Homo sapiens: one gene and its partner. The protein of the gene in region 2 interacts with the protein of the main gene of each other region in a pairwise test. Each region holds a gene or a part of one and is shown on either strand. Other genes may lie near its edges.

Region 1 (4,264 bases), on a different chromosome or scaffold from region 2:
ATTGTCTTCATTTTACACACGAGGAAATAGAGTGTCAGAAACACTGAACCACTTGCTTTAAGATTGCTACTCTGTGACTGAGGAGCCAGTGCTGATCCTGGAAGATTTCACTCTTTGCCGCTAGCCACTGTGCTTTGCTGAGTCCTGGGGACTCTACCTCCATCTAAAATTTCTGGATGCGGGGGTGGAATCACTCCAAGGGACTTACATATTTTTGCTTGGTCTGGAGTGCAATGTGGTACCCAGGGACCCAGAGGAATTAGGATTCTTGCACTTTGAGTGACCAATAATCTTTTTTTTTTTTTAATAAGGACTGAAGGGGTTCCTGGAATGCAGGACTTTCATTTTAAAACCAAGATGAGTCAGTCAACTACACTCCAGCTCAGCAGAGGTTTTGTTCTTCAGGATGCTAGTTCTTGCTCCTTGGACCTCCAGGACATGCCCATAATATTTTCTTGGGCTCTAGGCCAGGCTGGTGAGATGGTTTCACAAGTAAGTAAAGGAACAAACGGAGGCAATGTTCTTTTTATTGCTCTTTATTTCTGTGCTGTCTAAATGTCAGGATCACTAGGAAAGATGATTCTAGCCTCTTCATCCTCCCATTTCCAGATGGAGGCCTCCCTAGGGTAGGGAGCTATGATGGGAAATAGGAGCCTCTCATTGGGTGGAAATGGTAGTCACTGTGAAAACTGCTTCTCTAAACACAGGTCTAGCCTGACTCTCAGTAATCCCCCACCCTACAAAGTGAAAGGCATGGCCCCAGGGACTTCTTCTTTGTTTGACTTCTTCTGCTCTCATTTGCTTGGCCTGGACTCATTTTGTGGGCTATGGGGCTGCTGCTGGGTTTGACAGCCCTTGTCCTGAGTTTGCGGTGAGTTGGGCTCAGACTCCATGTTAAGGGGTGAGACTTCAGGCTTGGTCTCCAAACCACAGCACCTGGCCTGAATGCAGCATGGGGGTTTTGGCTGGCAGCAGTGATTGTGTTTTGGTGGGCAGCATTGACTGCCTTTTGGCTGGCAGCACTGGTTCTGTTTTGGTGGGCAGCATTGATTGCCTTTTGACTGGCAGCACTGGTTCTGCTGTGGTGGGCAGCATTGATTGCCTTTTGCTGGGCAGCATTTACTGTGTTTTGTCTGGTCACACATCTTCTGAACACTTGGAGGTACTAGAAAAAGAAAATAATATTCTCATCAGAAGGAAATCTGGGTGCCTGCTTTCATTTCCTCCTTTCTTGACACCCAAATACATCCATCTTCAGGATAATGACTCAGACCAGGGTTGAGAAAGCAGAGCTGGATCCCTCAGAGAGGCCAGCCAGCCCCATAATTCTACCTTTGCATATGCCAGTGTGTTTGTTCCTTACTAGGTAGTCATTTGTCAGATAAAGAATCAAAAGACCAGAATATGTAAGCAATGTGAATAAGGTCCCTTAGCTAATGAGCAAACAGTTTGACCCTCAGTCTCCAGATCCTGAGTCAAGTGTCAGGCACTTCACAAACATCAGCTAATGTTATAACGGCTACCAGCCTGAGGTAGACATTTTTAGTCCACTTCACTTCATATGAGGACCACTGAAGTTCAAAAATCCACCTCAGTTGCTTGTAAGTGATTCAAGCCAAGCTCTATCCCACTCCAGAGCATGTGCTTGTTCTTGTCTCTAATGTGGCACCCATGGACCCAGGTGCAATGAAACTCTTGCACTTAGAGTGACCAACTGTCACACGCTTCCTGAATGCATCATTTTGTCCCATGCACGGAGCACTGTGGTGGTTACAGCAAGATGAAATGAAAAGTACAGTGCTCTTGGCATGGCAGGACTTGAGTTCCAGGCCTGGTTCTGCAACTCCCAAGCCTAAGGGATTGTGCAGTTCTCTTCATCTCTCTGGGCTTGTACCTCTTCCTCTATAAAGGGGCAGTGGTGGGGGTGAGGAAGGGGGAACTGGACCTGGTAGGTGTCCTCAAACTCAACCACTCAGCAGTTTTATCATTTCCTGATTCTTCCAGGTATAGAGAAAATCCAAACAACTCTTGCTTTACTTCTATCTACCCATCTTCCTCCTCCCAGGAAGTCCAAGCTCTTCTGGGAACGTCCCTGGGCCTCAGCCCAGGTATGCAGCCCCTGGAGAAGCCCCTAATGGTTTCCGCCCTGGTCCCTCCTATGGCACATGATGAGAGGATGAACGCCACTGTTGTGGTCCCAGAGCAGAATAGAGGGTCTAGAAGTGGCCAGGAAACAGCAGACAGTGAGCAGGTTGTTATCTAGCCTCCTCAAGGAAATGTAGAAGCACGGGAAATGAGCCTGTACCCCCTCTGTGGACTCAGCTCACAAAGCCACAAACCCATGTCAGGGAGGTGCCAGGCCTGTCAGAGCCCTGTCACTGGTAGGGTAGGATGGGTGTGGGATTTGGAGTGACAACTGCTGAGGTGAGGTGGCAACCACCTTCCAGCCTCTGGCATCCTTGGGATTGTGAGAAAAGCCTCTGGCCCAAATTAGTGGTTCTTTGTTTTTGTTTTTGTTTTTTTGAGATGGAGCTTCGCTCTTGTCACCCAGGCTGGAGTGCAATGGTGCGATCTCAGCTCACTGCAACCTCTGCCTCCCAGGTTCAAGCGATTCTCCTGCCTCGGCCTCCGGAGTACCTGAGATTACAGATGCCTACCACCACGCCCAGCAAATTTTTGTATTTTTAGTAGAGATGGGGTTTTGCCATGTTAGCCAGGCTGGTCTCGAACTCCTGACCTCTGGTGATCTGACCACCTCAGCCTCTCAAAGTGCTGGGATTACAGGCGTGAGCCAATGTCCCAGCCCCCAAACTTGTTTTTTAAACTGAGCCAGTTACTGCTGTGGGCTTTCCACTAAGCACACACATGCCCATATCTCTGTGAGAGTGTGTGTGTGTGTGTGTGTGTGCACCTAAGTGCATGTAGGCATGTGTCCATGCATAATTATAGGTACATGGAGAGAAGAACTTGAGGTTTGTGATGATGGCTGTTTAACAAATTGAGATTGCTTGAACTTTCTCATGAGTCTTTACAGTTAGAGCCAGTGTGAATAGCTCCTAGTAGGGGCCAGCCTCTGTCCTGGCCTTCTCTCTCCTGCTGGGTGCTCCCTACTTGCCCTCTATCCTATCCTGACCTGCTGTCAGGCTGCTTCCCCACAGCCCTGCTCCAAACACTCTCCCTGATGTTTAGAAAGCCACATCTCTTGTCTTGTCCTCTTCTTTTGTGTCCTGTAGATAAAGGGACTCCTGGGGACAGTAGCTACAAATCTCTCCTCACATTAAAGTCTTTCTGGGGGAGGGCCGGACACAGTGGCTCACGTCTGTAATCCCAGCACTTTGGGAGGTCGAGGCAGGTGGATCACCTGAGGTCGGGGGTTCAGAACCAGCCTGGCCAACATGGTGAAACCCTGTCTCTACAAAAAATAGAAAAATGGGCATGGTGGCAGGTGCCTGTAATCCCAGATACTTGGGAGACTGAGGCAGGAGAATCGCTTGAACCCAGGAGGTGGAGGTTACAGTGAGCTGAGATCGTGCCATTGCACTCCAGCCTTGGCAAGAAGAGCAAAACTCCATCTCAAAAAATAAAATAAAGTAAAATAAAATAAAATAAAATAATTTCTGGGGGTTACCCCATGATATGGTTTGGCTCTGTGTATGTACCTCACAAAATCTGATGGTTTTATAAGCATCTGACATTTCCCCTGTTCTTACTTCTCTCTCCCACCACTATGTGAAGAAGGTCCTTCCCCTTTGCCTTCTGCCATGATTGTGTTTCCTGAGGCCTTCTCAGACATGTGGAACTGTGAATCGATTAAACTTCTTTCCTTTATAAATTATCCAGTCTTGGGTAGTATCTTTTTTTTTTTTTTTTTTTGAGACGGAGTCTCGCTCTGTCGCCCAGGCCGGACTGCGGACTGCAGTGGCGCAATCTCGGCTCACTGCAAGCTCCGCTTCCCGGGTTCACGCCATTCTCCTGCCTCAGCCTCCCGAGTAGCTGGGACTACAGGCGCCCGCCACCACGCCCGGCTAATTTTTTGTATTTTTAGTAGAGACGGGGTTTCACCTTGTTAGCCAGGATGGTCTCGATCTCCTGACCTCATGATCCACCCGCCTCGGCCTCCCAAAGTGCTGGGATTACAGGCGTGAGCCACCGCGCCCGGCCGGGTAGTATCTTTATAGCAGTGTGGAAATGGACTAATCCACCCCAGTAGGACAAAAATCTGTATCATCCTCTCCTGAAGGTGTGCAGGATTCTCCAGTCAGGT
Region 2 (6,063 bases):
TCCCAGTCTTCTCCACGCCAACCTTTCCCAGAACCACAGGCTTCCAGAATGTTGTAGGGAAACTGCAAAATCCGCGCCTCCACCAGCCTCTCCCAGCGCCAGGTCAATTTCACACACAGGGAAACTGAAGCCTGCCTCAGAGGGGCAGCGTTTTACCTCCTTAGTGGCAGTTTTGAGGTGAATCGGGGTCTCCCTAGGATTCCAGGTTGTGCACTTTCTCTAAATTGTGGAATGTGGCCAGGCGTGGTGGCTTGAGTCTGTAGTCCCAGCTACTCAGGAGCCACAGCAGGAGGATGGCTTGAGCCCAGGAGTTCAAGTGCAGTGGGGAAACATAGGGAGACCTCGTCTTAAAGCAATTTGTTTGGGGCCAGGCGTGGTTTCTCAGGCCTATAATCCCAGCACTCTGGGAGGCCAGGGCAGGAGTATCACTGGAGGTTGGGAGTTTGAGACCAGTCTGGCCAATGTTGTGAAACTGCATCTCTACTAAAAATACAAAAATTAGCAGGGCACGGTGGCAGGCGCTTGTAATTCCAGTTACTCAGAAGGCTGAGGCAGGAGAGTCACTTGAACCCAGGAGGCAGGCGCTACAGTGAGCCAGGATTGTGCCACTGTACTCCAGCCTGGCCAGACAGAGTGAGGCTCTGTCTCAAAAAAAAAAAAAAAAAAATTGGGCCGGGTGCAGTGGCTCATGCCTGTAATCCCAGCACTTTGGGAGGCCGAGGCAGGCAGATCACAAGGTCAGGAGATCAAGACCATCCTGGCTAACACGGGGAAACCCCGTCTCTACTAAAAAATACAACAAATTAGCCAGGCATAGTGGTGGGTGCCTGTAGTCCCAGCTACTCGGGAGGCTGAGGCAGGAGAGTGGTGTAAACCCGGGAGGTGGACCTGCAGTTAGCCGAGATCGCGCCACTGCAGTCCAGCCTGGGCGACAAGTGAGACACCCCCTCAAAAAAAAATTGATTGGAACATCCTCCAGGGTGCAAGACCCTCGGTTCCTCAGAGTTCTACAGGAAGGATAGCAGAGTGCAGTTGCCCAGAGGTGAAGTCCCATCTCTGCCATTTGTTGGCTGTGTGACCAGGCACAAATCATTAATTTCTCTGAGCCTGTATTTTACCATCTGTTGCTATTGAGTAATAGTAGTTGAATATTTTCTACTTTTATTTTTATTTTATTTTTATTTTTATTTTTTTTGAGACGGAGTCTGGCCCTGTCACCTAGGCTGGAGTGCAGTGGCGCGCTCTCGGCTCACTACACCTCTGCTTCATGGGTCCAAGCGATTCTCCTGCCTCAGCCTCCTGAGTAGCTGGGAGTACAGGTGCGCACCACCATACCCAGCTAATTTTTGTGTTTTTTTTTTAGTAGAGACAGGGATTCACCATGTTGGCCAGGCTGGTCTCAAAGTCTTGACCTCAGGTGATGCACCCACCTCGGCCTCCCAAAGCGCTGGGATTGCAGGCGTGAACCACTGCACCCGGCCGAACATTTTTATCTTTATTTTATGATTATTATTATTATTTTTTTAAGATGGAGCTTTGTTTTTGTTGCCCAAGCTGAAGTGCAATGGCGCGATCTTGGCTCACTGCAACCTCTGCCTCCTGGGATCAAGTGATTCTCCTGCCTTAGCCTCCCAAGTAGCTGGGATTATAAGCATGCAGCACCACGCTGGAGGATATTTTGTATTTTTAGTAGAGGTGCGGTTTCTCTATGTTGGTCAGGCTGGTCTGGAACTCCTCACCTCAGCTGATCCACCCACTGCAGCCTCCGACAATGCTGGCATTACAAGTGTGAGCCACCATGCCCGGCCTTATTTTTATTTTTATTTTTTTTGTGAGACAGAGTCTCACTCTGTTGTCCAGGCGGAAGTGCAGTGGCACCATCTTGGCTCACTGCAATCTCGGCCTCCCGGGTTCAAGCGATTCTCCTGCCTCAGCCTCCTGAGTAGCTGAGACCACAGGCGTGCAGCACCAGGCCTGGCTAATTTTGGTATTATCAGTAGAGATGTTGTTTCACAGTGTTGGCCAGGCTGCTCTCGAACTCCTGACCTCAAGTCATCCACCCGCCTCAGCCTCCCAAAGTGCTGGGATTACAGGTGTGAGCCATAGTGCCTGACCTGTAGTTGTTGAATATTTATTATTAATCTACAAGTTGGGTGTGATGCAAGTCCTATATATGGAGTCCCCCAAACTTCTAGAGCAAGGGCTTCCCCATAATCCTGGCAGGCAGGCCTCCCCTGGGGTTTCCAACTTCTGACCCCACTGAAGTGTTTATCCTCTTCTCTAATCCCAGCCTCCTTTTCCCTGTCTCCATGTGCTCTGAGAGATGCTCTGAGAGATGCTCCCACTCCCCCAGGCTCCCTCCGCATCCCCCTCATTTTCCTCCTCCCCAGTGTGTCAATGGAGTCCTAACCCCATCCTCGACATTGTCGCCTTTTCCTCCTCCAGAGTGGGACCTTCTTTTCCCCCGAGTGGTCCTGTCTAGGGGTGCCGCTGCCGGGCCCCCTCTGGTCTTCCTGCTGGAGACTGGAGCCTTTCGGGAGTCAGCAGGCGCCCGGGCCAACCGCAGCCAGCGAGGGGTGAGCGATACTTCACCGGCGAGTCATCAGGGTGAGCTGGCCGTGTGCGATGCAGTCAGTGTCTGGGTGACAGACCCCTGGACTGCTGTGGACTTGGGTGTGCTCGAGGTGGAGGTGTTGGGCGAGGTGCCTGCAGCTGTCGGCAGTTCCCTCCGCCAGCACTTCTTTGTTGCCCACTTCGAGGCCGATAAATCTGAGGAAGGTGGCCCGGGGGTAGGTGGAGGGGGCTGCCGCCGGGGTGTGGACCGGGGGGCACTGGGTGTCTGAGTGCAAGGCCAAGCAGTCCTATGTGCGGGCATTGACCGCTGATGCCCAGGGCCGTGTGGACTGGCGATGGATTCAAACTGGCACAGCCTGTGTCTGCACACTCCTCAGCCGGACTGGCCGGGCCTGAGACTTATACCCAGGAACTGGTCAGGCAGAAAAAGAACAGAGCTGGATGCTGAGAGACCTCAGGGTTGGCCCAGCTGCTCTACGGACGGACCCCAGTTGGGGAACTCATCAAATCATCACAAAATCACAACTCTCTGAATTTGAGCTCAATCTCTGCAGGATGGGTGCCACCACATGTGGTTTTGAAGGTTGAATAGGAGCTCTCCCAGGGGAACTTGAGGGTAATCATGATGATGATGATGATGATGATAATAATAATAGCCACTATTTACTGAGTGTTTACTCTTTCGTAGCCCTAATACATAACTCCTCGGATCAACTCTCATGGATTTGATCATTGGTGACCTTTGGTGTTAAGTTGCTGACTGCTCAGTCACAGAGGACACCACCTTGCTCATCCTGGGGAGTGGGAGGGCACATTTCACGATGTGCATGGGGGAGGAGGGAAACTGGAACATGCAAGCAGATGGCCAGGGGACCTTGAGGACATGGTCTACAGAAGGCCTTTAAGTATCTGGGAGCTGGGGTTCAAATGAGAAATCTTACTTGGTGAGAGCAGGCAGGGGTTGGCTTAGAATATTCTGTTTTGAGATAAAGAGCTACCGATCACACGGGGAGTATAAGCAAGGTTCAATGAGAAGTGATCAGGATGCTGGAGAGTTCAGCCCTGGGCGGGGAGCTCAAGTCAGGTTTCTAGCCCTCTTCCCTGTGCCAACCTATACCCTACATTGGGAAAGAAACAGACCTTAAAATTGTCCAGCTTGATGGCATCGCGGGGAAGGGACTAAGTCCAGATAATGTCCTCCGAGGCTTCGGCCCCATGGGCAGGACACACCTCCTGCGGGCCTATTCAATAATCAGTTAAATCACCTGAAGCACACGCATTTCCGGGGACAGCTCCGGGCATCCTGGCTTGAGGGTAGGGTGGGCGGAGGTCCCTAAGGGAGAGGTGGGGCTCGGGCTGAATCCCTCGTTGGCGGCACCAGGGTCAAGTGGCTTCCCTGGCAGCACAGTCACGGGGAGGCCCTCTCTCATTGGGCAGAAACTAAGTCCGAAGCCGCGCCCCTCCTGGGAGGTTGGACTGTGGTGCAGGAAAGCCTCAAGTAGAGGAGGGTTGAGGCTTCAGTCCAGCACCTTTCTCGGGTCACGGCCTCCTCCTGGCTCCCAGGACCCCACCATAGGCAGAGGCAGGCCTTCCTACACCCTACTCCCTGTGCCTCCAGCCTCGACTAGTCCCTAGCACTCGACGACTGAGTCTCTGAGGTCACTTCACCGTGGTCTCCGCCTCACCCTTGGCGCTGGACCAGTGAGAGGAGAGGGCTGGGGCGCTCCGCTGAGCCACTCCTGCGCCCCCCTGGCCTTGTCTACCTCTTGCCCCCCGAGGGGTTAGTGTCGAGCTCACCCCAGCATCCTATCACCTCCTGGTGGCCTTGCCGCCCCCACAACCCCGAGGTATAAAGCCAGGTACACGAGGCAGGGGACGCACCAAGGATGGAGATGTTCCAGGTAAGACTGCAGGGCCCCTGGGCACCTTCCACCTCCTTCCAGGCAATCACTGGCATGAGAAGGGGTCAGACCAGTGTGAGCTGTGGAAGGAGGCCTCTTTCTGGAGGAGCGTGACCCCCAGTAAGCTTCAGGTGGGGCATTTCCTGAAGGTGCGGATCTGAAATGTTGGGGTATCTCAGGTCCTCTGGGCTGTGGGGTGGGCTCTGAAAGGCAGGTGTCCGGGTGGTGGGTCCTGAATAGGAGATGCCGGGAAGGGTCTCTGGGTCTTTGTGGGTGGTGTACCACGCGGGATGGGAAGGCCAGGACTCGGGGCTGCGGTCTCAGACCCGGGTGAAGCAGTGTCCTTGTCCCAGGGGCTGCTGCTGTTGCTGCTGCTGAGCATGGGCGGGACATGGGCATCCAAGGAGCCGCTTCGGCCACGGTGCCGCCCCATCAATGCCACCCTGGCTGTGGAGAAGGAGGGCTGCCCCGTGTGCATCACCGTCAACACCACCATCTGTGCCGGCTACTGCCCCACCATGGTGAGCTGCCCGGGGCCGGGGCAGGTGCTGCCACCTCAGGGCCAGACCCACAGAGGCAGCGGGGGAGGAAGGGTGGTCTGCCTCTCTGGTCAGGGGCTGCGGAATGGGGTGTGGGAGGGCAGGAACAGAGGGCTTCCTGGACCCCTGAGTCTGAGACCTGTGGGGGCAGCTGGGGAGCTCAGCTGAGGCGCTGGCCCCAGGCACATGCTCATTCCCCCACTCACACGGCTTCCAGACCCGCGTGCTGCAGGGGGTCCTGCCGGCCCTGCCTCAGGTGGTGTGCAACTACCGCGATGTGCGCTTCGAGTCCATCCGGCTCCCTGGCTGCCCGCGCGGCGTGAACCCCGTGGTCTCCTACGCCGTGGCTCTCAGCTGTCAATGTGCACTCTGCCGCCGCAGCACCACTGACTGCGGGGGTCCCAAGGACCACCCCTTGACCTGTGATGACCCCCGCTTCCAGGACTCCTCTTCCTCAAAGGCCCCTCCCCCCAGCCTTCCAAGCCCATCCCGACTCCCGGGGCCCTCGGACACCCCGATCCTCCCACAATAAAGGCTTCTCAATCCGCACTCTGGAGGTGTCTTTCTGTGGGCTCAGGGCAACCACACACACACAGGATGGGTCCAGCTTCCAAACCATTTTATACAGAGTCACAGTATGAGAACTCTGGTAGAAAACAGTGTGGGGTCGGGGGATGACATCGCAACTTTACTCTACATTGGGAAAGAAACAGACCTTAAAATTTTCCAGCTTGATGGCCAGGTGCGATGGCTGATGCCTGTAATCCCAGCACTTTGAGAGGCCAAGACAGGCGAATCACCTGAGGTTAGGAGTTCAAGACCAGCCTGGTTAACATGGTGAAACCCCGTCTCTACTAAAATTACATAAAGAAATTAGCTGGGCGTGTAGGCGGGTGCCTGTAATCCCAGCTACTCTGGAGGGTGAGGCAGGAGAATCGCTTGAACCCGGGAGGCGGAGGTTGCAGTGAGCGGAGACTGTGCCATTGCACTCCAGCCTGGGCAAAAAGAGGGAAAGTCCGTCTCAAAAAAAAAAAAAAATTGTCCAGTTT

The links.
Region 1: the proteins of CGB3 (region 2) and SMCP interact in binary tests that used the Homo sapiens proteins (3 or more experiments, as listed by UniProt).

What each region holds. Positions count from the first base shown.
Region 1 is NC_000001.11:152,881,304-152,885,567, reverse strand, and holds the end of SMCP (sperm mitochondrial-associated cysteine-rich protein), read right to left. Parts: intron 1,166-4,264; 5' UTR 1,146-1,165; coding exon 795-1,145; 3' UTR 521-794; downstream 1-520. UniProt on the Homo sapiens protein: Involved in sperm motility. Its absence is associated with genetic background dependent male infertility. Infertility may be due to reduced sperm motility in the female reproductive tract and inability to penetrate the oocyte zona pellucida.
Region 2 is NC_000019.10:49,022,369-49,028,431, reverse strand, and holds CGB3 (choriogonadotropin subunit beta 3 precursor), read left to right. Parts: upstream 1-4,098; 5' UTR 4,099-4,460; coding exon 4,461-4,475; intron 4,476-4,828; coding exon 4,829-4,996; intron 4,997-5,231; coding exon 5,232-5,546; 3' UTR 5,547-5,563; downstream 5,564-6,063. UniProt on the Homo sapiens protein: Beta subunit of the human chorionic gonadotropin (hCG). hCG is a complex glycoprotein composed of two glycosylated subunits alpha and beta which are non-covalently associated.